2 separate regions of the Homo sapiens genome follow, and region 2 is linked to region 1. Evidence: fine-mapped expression QTL. Tissue or cell type: cerebellar hemisphere. Region 1 holds a variant in brackets; the other region holds the start of a gene. All regions are shown on one strand. Distances are between the middles of the regions.

Region 1 (5,153 bases):
ATGAATAATATATAAAGACAATAATATCTAAGAATTATAAGGAAATTAAGAATATTGTAGGCAGGAAATTACAAATTTGTATGAGTACTCTGTATTTCTGAGTTTTTGAGTTCTTATTGAATAAATATAGACAATATTATCCATATTATTTTTACATAGTAGTTCCTTCTTGTCCAAGGCGATATGTTCCAAAACCCTCAGTGGATGCCTCAAACTGCGGATAGCACCAAATCCTATACGTATATGTTTCTTCCTACAAATATGTATACACATATACCACACACATACACCTATATAAAGTCTAACTTATAAATTAGCTACAGTAAGAGATGAACAACAACAATAATAAAATAGAACAATTATAACTATATACTACCATAAAAGTTATATAAATTTGGTCTCTCAACATATTTTACTGTGCTGTACTCGCCCTTCCTGTGATGATGTGAGATGACAAAATGCCTACATGGTGAGAGGAAGTGAGGTGAATGACGTGGGCATTGTTGACGTAGCGTTAGGCTACTATTGACCTTCTGCAGGTGGCATATACAGCATAGATACATTAGACAAAGAGGTGATTCATGTATTGGGCGGGATGGAGTGGGATGGCATGAGATTTCATCCCACTACTCAGAATGGTGTGCAACTTAAAACTTAGGTATTGCCTCCCTCCTGTATCATTGGTTTTTCCTCTCTTTTGGATAATTTCATTAGCATAGAATTATGCCATAATATCTTTTGTCCTCAAAATGAAACTTCCTTGACCCCATATGTTTCCCAGATGCTGTTCCATTTCTTTATAGCTCCCACTCCCTTTTACAATGAAACTCTGGAAAGAGTTGCCCACACTCATCAAATATTGTTTTCCCACTCTCTCTCTAATCTAACATGGCCTCCATCTCTACCACTGTACTGAAAACATTCTTCTTAAGGGCACTGGTTACCTTTATTATGACAAATTTAGTGGTCAGAATTCAGTTCCAACTTTGCTGGACCACATTCAACACAGTGAATTGGTGTCTTCTTGAAACACTTTCTCTGTTTATCTCCTTGTTCTTATCACTCTTTCAAGGTGCTCCTCCTACCTTACTCACCACTCCTCCCTTGCTAGCTAGTCCTTTTTCTTTCTTTTCTTTTCTTTTTCTTTTTTTCTTTTTTTTGAGATGGAGTCCCGCTCTGTCGCCAGGCTGGAGTGCAGTGGTACAATCTCGGCCCCCTGCAACCTCCGCCTCCTGGGTTCAAGTAATTCTCCTGCCTCAGCCTCCCAAGTAGCTGGGACTGCAGGTGCATGCCACCATGCCCAGCTAATTTTTGTATTTTTAGTAGAGATGAGGTTTCACCCTTGTTGGCCAGGATGGTCTTGATCACTTGACCTTGTGATCTGCCTGCCTTTGCCTCCCAAAGTGCTGGGATTACAGACATGAGCCACTGGGCCTGGCCCCTTTTTCTTCTTCATGATTTCTACATGTTGGAATGGGCAGGGCATGGTGGCTCATGCTTGTAATCCCAGCACACTGGGAGGCCAAGACAGGAGGATTACTTGAGCCCAGGAGTTCAAGACCAGCCTGGGAAGCATAGCAAGAACCTGTCTCTACAAAAAAATAGAAAATTAGCTGAGTGTGGTGGTACGTGGCTGTAGTCCTAGCTACTGGGGAGACTGAAGTGGGAGGAGTGTGAGACTGCAATGAGCTCTGATTGCACCACTGCACTCCAGCCTGGGTGACAAAGTGAGACTCTGTCTCAGTGAATGAATGAATGAATAAATAAATGAATTTTGAAATGCCTGATGGCTCAGAACTTGGACCTTTCTTCTTCCTTATTTACATTGCCTCATTAGATGATCTCATATAATCTCATGGCTTTAACTATTATCTATGTGTCAAAGTCTCCCAAATGTATATCTCCAGTCTGAACTCTCAGAATTTTGGACTTGCATATCCAACTATCTATTCAACGTTTGCACATGGATGTCTCCTAGAGATCTCAAATTTAGCATGTTCAAAACCAAATGCTGGAATTCCACCCTTACTCTCCAAAGCTGCTCCTCTTCCAGATCTTCCACACATCACTAAAGAGCAGCTCCACTGCTCTAATTGCTCTGGTCAACCTTTGGAGTCATTTTTTACTGCTCTTTTTTCTCACACCCCACATTCAATCTAGTTGCAAGTCTTGAACCAGAAACTGACCACTTTTTACCTCCTTGGTTGCTATTACCCTGGCCCATCCCATCCTTTATCTTTCACTTAGAATGCTACAAAAGCCTCCTAACATCTCTCCATCTGTACACCCCTGCCTTTCTACTGCCTTTTCCCGATAGTGGACATGATCCTTTTCAAATATAATTCAGATTGTGTCCTTTCTCTGTGCAGAACCTCCTCGCCATGGCTTTCTATTTCATCCTGATTAAAAGCCAAGTTCTTATCATGACCTGCAAAGTCTCTCTGATCTCCTCCCTCCTGCTCTGTAACTTTCCTCCTTACTCTTTTTCCTCACTCACTGTAGTCCAGA[C/T]GCACTGTCAGTTGCTGGACACGCTAAGCACACCTCCATCTTACAGAGCATTACCACTTGCTGTTTGTTTTTCCTCCTTTTTTCCATTCAAGGCCCCCCCATGACCACCCTGTAAAATAGCGCCCTCCCATTGAATTGTTCTCTAGCCTCCTTATCCTCATGTACTTTCCTGCTGAGTCCTTATCGCTGTCTGCCACATTATTCATAAACATTCTCTTAAAGCCTGCTTCTCCCACAAAAGTGATAGCGGGGCTTTGTTTTAGCTACCATATTTATTATAGTCCTAGTACCTGAAGAATGCCTGCACACTGTAGGTACTCAACAAATATTATGTGAATGAATAAATAATCAATTTTATTCCTCTCACATCTGCCCCATCCCTAGCAGACTTCTATTTCAGAGTCCTCTGAGATTTAAGGAATGGAATACATCCATTTTCTGCCTCTGTACAGCAAATTGATCTGTATTTATTCTCACTTTCTTTCTTCTCATCTTATATAAGATGGTGTTCTTTCTCCGCATTCTTCTTCTCTGACTCCACTTCCTTTTGTGTTCTCTTGCATGCTGATACTGCTCTGCAAGCCATTTCTTTTCTCTATGTCCTGTCCGTTTGTAAACATTTTCAAGTACCTCCCATCTTACCACAAAAACAAGCAAGAAAAATTTTCCTTAACCCTATATGCCTTTTAGCTACTCTCCTATTTCTTTTCTTCATGCACAGTTACTAAAAAGAGGTGTCTACTTGGGCTAGCAAATCGTCGGCACACATGTTTTCCACTGTTGCTGTCTGTAGACATTCCCTATCAATCCCACACCCTTTTCCCAAGTCTATAACCAGCCTCTGAACCTTTAAACATGTTATTCCAGGCAGTCGTTAATAACCAGAGTTCACACTTCATATAACGCCTGCTTGCCATCTACGGAGCTTATTCTTTTCTTAATTTCCTCACCTCACTGCTTAATCAATTACAATACAAATTCCAACTTTCTACTTGTTAAATGCAATGGACTCCTTGTTTTAATCAATTTGCCTTCTTGAAATTCTCTCCAATCTTGATTTCTGTAACTCTAATTTTGTTGTCATTGTTTTTAGGTTTTTTTTATCCTCAGTTTCCATTTTGGAACACTTTTCCTCTCCTACTCTTGAAATATTTACATTACATTACATTACCCCTAGTCAGGGGTTCTTAACCCAGGTGAATTATTTCCTAGAGAACCCGCGAACTAATTTAAGAGTATATGTGTGTGTGTGTGTGTGTGTGTGTGTGTGTGTGTGCAAAGTGTTTTATATGTGGATATTTCTAACCACTGCAGCTATAGCTTTTATCCAGTTCCTAAGAGGGCTAAGAATGACTGCTACTTTCTTTCTCGGGGTAATCTTGCCCAAGCCCATGGGCAGCCAGCATGACACAAGTGAGAGCTCAAAAGGGTCCAAGTCAAATAAACCCATGTTCATAGTTTGAACTTCCCCTTTTAGAAGCTGTTTGACTAAGGAAACGTTATTTAACCTCTCTGAAACTTGGTTTGTTCAACTGCAAAATGGTAGAAATGACCCCTAATTTGCAGGGTTATTGTAACAAAGAGAGATGACATTTGTAAAACTCTTGGTGTTGTGTAGTGGTCAGTAAGTGGTAGCTATTACGATTCAGCCACAAACATCTGGGTCCCTCAAGAACATAAGCTTGTCAGCTTGCAGAGCCTCTCCTCCCTCATTTTAAAACAGGCTTCATTTTTAGGATTCTGCTTTAGTGAAGCAGTAAGCATGATGTGACTCATGCATTATAAATTAATTGACTCTCTGGGTGTTAGAAATCTGCTAGCATGCATTTATTAATGTGAAACATCTAGGACAGCTGCAGAGAGCATTGTCAAGTCTGTCTTTGTGCACAATATTTAGAAAATCAGAATTGGGCACATATAAATTTAATCAGACTGAAAGATGTTTATAAATTGGCTTCCAGTATTTATCTGGAACAATCAACATAGCACACATTAAGAATGTTATTAAACATAGCAGAAACCAAATTACTCAATATATACAGTGTAATAAAAATTGGTAGGGCAGTAAAAATTGCCTAGGTATGTGTTTTTAAAGCAATGGAAGCTGAGCAGGTCTCTTTTCAGAGGTACTTCATATATGTTTATTGTATCCTACTAAACATGTCTGTAAAACTGATCATTTACTTACACCTTGATTGCCAATCCTGATTCCATGCCAGCTGGTGAAAAGGCTTGGATAAGCAAGATGTTTTAGAAGCTTGACAAACATTTATAGTCAAAAGTGTAAGTTATTTATACAACTCCATAAAATAATGCAGTTAAATTACAACCCAGATATTTTGGTTTGCAAAACAGCAAAGGATCCAAGGGCCTCTATGCCTAGCAGGGATCCCCAGTTGATGTGGAGTCATGACCTCTTCTCGCTGGTGTTTAACTGTATAACTCTTCTGCCCCTTTCTTTATTCCTACTTCCAAAAGTGATATGTGGCATACAGAAAGGTAGATTTAAAACCCTTACTTACTGAATTTTTGAGAGCATATCTTAAGCATTTTGCAACATTCTTCCAAGTAATTAAAAACACCCTGAATTGGAAGAAAGAAACTCGAATTCAAAAATCATTGACCTAGATCTTTGAGTAAATGAC
Region 2 (5,153 bases), 820 kb before region 1:
GTAACTTTCCAAGGTCACCCAGCTAGTGGGTTTCACAGCCACCTTTCAAAACCACTTCTGTCCAACTTAAAGTGCACCTCTTTAGGAAATGGCCCATTTTAAAAGAACCCCCTGTTAAAATAATAAATCAATCCTTGTTCAGAGAATAATTTATTTAGGTGAAAAAAAAAAGTGTTCACAGTACATGTTTAAAGTTGAACTCTGTTTTAATAACGTGACTTGCACATTGCTTTCTGCCTAAGGAATAAACCAGAAATTAGGAGTTGACCTTGAGCAAGTCACATTTTGATCTTGTTTGTTGGCACATATAAAACAGGCATAGAAAAACAACACTGGGCAATGTCCCAGCTGGGCAATGTGGCTCATGGCTGTAATCCCAGCACTTTGGGAGGTCAAGGTGGGCAGATCACCTGAGGTCAGATGTTTGAGACCAGCCTGGCCAACATGACGAAACCCCGACTCCACTAAAAATACAAAAATTAGCCAGGCGCGGTGGTAGGTACCTGTAATCCTACCTACTCAGGAGGCGGAGGTGGGAGAATCGCTTGAACCTGGGAGGCAGAGGTTGCAGTCAGCCAAGATCACGCCACTGCACTCCAGCCTGGGTGACAGAGCGAGACTCCATCTCAAAATAGAAAAGAAAGAAAGAAAGAAAGAAAGAAAGAAAGAAAGAAAGAAAGAAAGAAAGAAAGAAAGAAAGGAAGGAAGGAAGGAAGGAAGGAAGGAAGGAAGGAAGGAAGGAAGGAAGGAAGGAAGGAAGGAAGGAAGACAACACTGTCCCATGTGTAAATTTAAAGTATGAGGAATCTGAGAATTTAGATTCATTTTAGCCTGGAAAAAGACTTATCTCCTATGAGATACTCATCTGAATTATGAAAAATGAACAATAAGAAGTTTTGCAAAGTATCATCTAAATTATAGCACACTATAAATTTAGTAAATAATTACAATAAAATAACCCTTTAGTGAAACATATGACATTAAATCAGTGGATTTGAAAAACCAGCTCATAATGTATACACACGTAAGCAGCATAAAGCTGCAATGTAGTGGTAGTGTTATGTCCTTTCTATAACTTCAGGAAAAGACCTCATGGAATCTTTGAAATCCTCTAGGGATATCTCTTACTTTTCATCTCTATTTTATATCACAGATTTCAGTACTACTTTATACCAGAATGGTAGCAGTTTCTACTCATTAAGAAAGTATTGGCCGGGTGCGGTGGCTCACGCCTGTAATCCCAGCACTTTGGGAGGCCGAGGTGCGTGGATTACCTGAGGTCAGGAGTTTGAGACCAGCCTGGCCAACATGATGAAACCCCATCTCTACTAAAAATACAAAAACTAGCTGGGCATGGTGGCACACGCCTGTAATCCCAGCTCCTTGGGAGGCTGAGGCAGGAGAATTGCTTGAGCCCGGGAGATGGAGGTTGCAGTGAGCCGAGATTGTGCCACTGCACTCCAGCCTGGCTGACAAAGTGAGACTCTGTCTCAAAATAAATAAATAAATAAAATAAGTATCTCAGCATGCTATCATAGAAGAAAGTCTAGTTTGTACGCTAAAAGATCTAGCATCTTTATGAACTTAGTTACTACATCAACACAATTATATGATCTAGGACAAGTCATTTGGTCTCCATACAGTTTAGTTTCTTCACTTATAAACTGACAAGGGGTTGAACTAGATTATTTCTTGCCAGGCCTAATATTCTATAATTTTTATAAAATCCATCAATAATGGGGTCACCACAAAGAAGGAAACATTTCTGTGATAGTTTCTCAAAAGTACCCTGGCCTGATCCTTCACTGCTACACGTCCCTGGACAAGTAGGTCTTTAACTTGCTACATTCTCTTCATTGTCTTTAACCACCCAGTGAATATCTCAAAAAATACCAAGAATTGGTTAACTAAAGTTTATACAATAACAAGATAAGCTTTTCACAAATATGTCTTATTTATTATTATTTATTTGTTTAAAGTTATAAGACATAAATTGGGCAACTCTTTTAACAAATTATTTTATCTGAGACACCGTTTACTTCAACCAAGTCACAAATAACCTGATTTTGTTATTAAATAACCTCTCAAAAAAAAAATTCAAGTTCTACTGTGTTTAGCTAGCAAGAGTTCTGTTTTGCATTTAACATATCTAAAAGGCCTCATGCACAATATAAGTAAATAACTCTTCTCACTACACAAGTAGATGCTAAAGCAACCTAGAGATTGAATAACTTCTGTGAGATCCTGCAGTGTCTGAAACAGACAGTATCTTTTTCAATCTTCTTTATTTTGTAAATTCCATCAGCTTAAAATGAAAAATTCTAACTATTAACCTCTCTAACTTCACTCTTGAGATCTTTCTTTCTGCCATTCAATTGGCATGAATAGTTCTCAAAGGAAGTGGAGAGCCATGAAAGCAAAGGATCTGAGCATGTCACGCAGCTCCTGTTCAGCCTGCCCTCTTAGCCTTTCTATAATCAAGGGCTTAGCTGGCCATGCACCTTTAAATCGTTTGATCTCAAGCAACAATTTGTGAACATGAGCATAATAAAAATTTTGGAACATAGAATGTGTTTAGAAATTTCCAATACCTTGAGAGGCCTTTGAGAGTTAAACTGCTCAAAACGAAAACAGTGAAGGAGTAGGTGACCAGTGTTAAAACAATTAAGTTAAAGCTTATGGACACTAAACATTCTCTTCTGTGATTTCTGATCCCCAAACATTTGCTTTCAAAAGTAGGCTTTCTTGTTTGGGTCCTTTTTGTCAAAATAATGAGAACACTTAGTAACAAGCAGAGGAGCATACCTTGATCCTGAGCCGTCATTTCTGCCGTGATAATCACAGGTGCACTGTGAAGGACACAAACAGCCCACTCCTTCCAAAAAGCTAAGGACAATGCACAGACATGCAAAGAGATGCATTGCTCCTTTTAGAGGTTATTTAAACAAAAGGTAAAAACCGAATCCTAAGCATTCAGAACCTGGTATGCCTGGAATACAAACAGCCATTTAGTAACAGCAGATTACACGGGATTAGCTGAGATCTGTAGTTACTTAACCTTCAAGTGTATCTTGCAGGAGATCAATTGATCCAGCCTTTGAATACAGTTTCAGCAAAGTAACACATTCTAAGGAAAATGAAAATCAAACACATGACAAGCAATTTCAATAGTTACCCGTAACTAGATTTGCAAGAAAATGCCTATTAAATCCCTTTCTTCTGGATGTACTTGCCACTACACCTTAAAAATATACTTAATGTAAAATAATTCAGTCTTGGCAGATGCAAGAAAATTCTGTAGATTATTTACATGTTACAACATTATAAAATGTTTTGCATTTGGTTTTTGCCAGAATGTGTTACTAATTCAGTTTTACAAAATTTAGTTTTAAAAATAGAAGCACATGACATAAAAATGATTTAGAAAAGAGTTATCGATGTTGCCACATACTGGCTATCTCTAAAAGTAAAGTAAAACAAGTCAGTTACACAGATTTTATAGGGAAAATGCTTCAATCCACTACTGATGTGGCAGGACTAAGTTCTCCAATAAGAACGTGTTCTGAGACTCTTCCAGGTCATCTCAGTGTGTGGAAGGTTTATCCCAGCACATTTATTTTTAATGCAGGCAACTATCTCTGTTCAATAGTTTCCCAAGTTATCAGCATCAAAGCCATATTTGAAGATCAACTCTAATTCTTTCAGCTATATTAGGCTCTGTCAGAAAATAAAAATTAAATGTAATTAAATTTAAAAGTATCTCCACACTCATAGAGTGGAGAATCCACAGGGACAATCAAGGATTTAAGTAATAAATATACGTCATTTAACCTTCTTAGTGGCTGCTTCTAACCATCCTCTTTAACTAAAAACCTTTTTAAAAGAAAATTAATTCTATAAAAATAAGCATATTATAGAAAATGTTATTTAAAACCAATAGAATGTATATAAAAACCATACAGTCTGAAAAACTGTGCTCAATTAAAATAAAATACTGCAGGTTTTCAGATTCTGCACAACTCGTTTGTTCATCAAATATTTACTGAGTACTTATTCTCTGCTGAGCATTGAGGGGTACAAAGATAAATAAGACAGTTATTACACATAAGGAACTCACACGATAAAGGGAGGAACAGACTACTAAAGAAGCACGAGAAAAGAGCATCAAACCCAGCCTGTGTTAGTCAAGCAAGACTTCCTAGGGTGGGTGGTGCCTGGCTGCCTTTTACAGGGTGCATGACGATGTATTATGGGAAAATCCAGAAAGTTGCATTGCAAGCAAAGGGAATAGTGGGAACAAAGGGAGGGAAGTGAGAAACAGTGTATTGTCCTCAGAGAATTTCAAGCACTTCTTGTTGCTCAGGCATAAGATTTTGAGGCAGGAAGTTAAAAAAGATAAAGCTGGAGAGATAAGCGGGGATGAAGTTATCAAGGAAACCCTTAGATTCCCTATGGAGAGCTTACTCTCAGCCTACAGGCAATGGGAGCAATAAAAGTTAGGCTTGGGAGTGGCATATCAGCTTATCCTTTCAGGAAGAATTCTCTGGCGGCTGTGTGGAGAAAAGGTTTAGACAGAGCAAGCAAGAAGAAAGGAGGAAGCTTCTAGATAGAGCAAGCAAGAAGAAAGGAGGAGGCTTCAGGTGGATGTCTGTGGTTATAGTCCAGGTGAGCAGCCATTAGGCTACAGCCTTGACTGCTGTGCTAGTAATCGTTAGGATAATGCAGCTTCAGGAAACACCCAGGAGAGAGAAATGATTGATTAGACGTAAGGATGAAGAAGGGATTTAAAAACAACCCTAAGGTTTCCCAGTGCTGGAGATGCAGTGAGAGGTGGTGGCCTCGAGTTTTTGAGCACAAGAGGAAAAAGAAATTGGATGGGTAAAGCTCTGATCGCCAAGTGACCAAGGGTTTTTGAATCATTAATTTCATGGATGTTATGACTTACATGGAAGCAAGACGTGCCAAATTGAGCATAGAAACGCTGTTTAAAGATAAAAACATCAGAAATTAGCAAACTAAGAGGTCAGAGGGAACTATGTAACCAAAGCCAGGTCTTCCTAGTTTTATCATATAAGCAAATTAAAAAATAAATAATATAGCATTGAAATATAATTACTGTACACTGTTGAAGTCCTTTATATTTGAGGCAAAGT

Evidence for each region. PIP is the estimated chance that this variant, and not a neighbour inherited with it, causes the effect.
Region 2: it holds the start of LRIT3, and the variant in region 1 is fine-mapped to the expression of LRIT3 in cerebellar hemisphere (GTEx, PIP 0.96).

Annotation. Positions count from the first base shown.
Region 1 is chr4:109,024,732-109,029,884 of GRCh38, reverse strand. The region is part of intron 5 of COL25A1 (collagen type XXV alpha 1 chain); the gene reads left to right. All of the region lies in intron 1 of LOC124900756 (a long non-coding RNA gene), which reads right to left. Among named protein-coding and RNA genes, the nearest start is that of ETNPPL, 260 kb to the right of the region's middle. The variant C/T (reference allele first, on the strand shown) is at 2,509.
Region 2 is chr4:109,845,970-109,851,122 of GRCh38, reverse strand. It overlaps LRIT3 (leucine rich repeat, Ig-like and transmembrane domains 3), which reads right to left and starts at 3,016. Exons shown (of 4, transcript NM_198506.5): 1 at 2,806-3,016. The coding sequence starts at 2,921.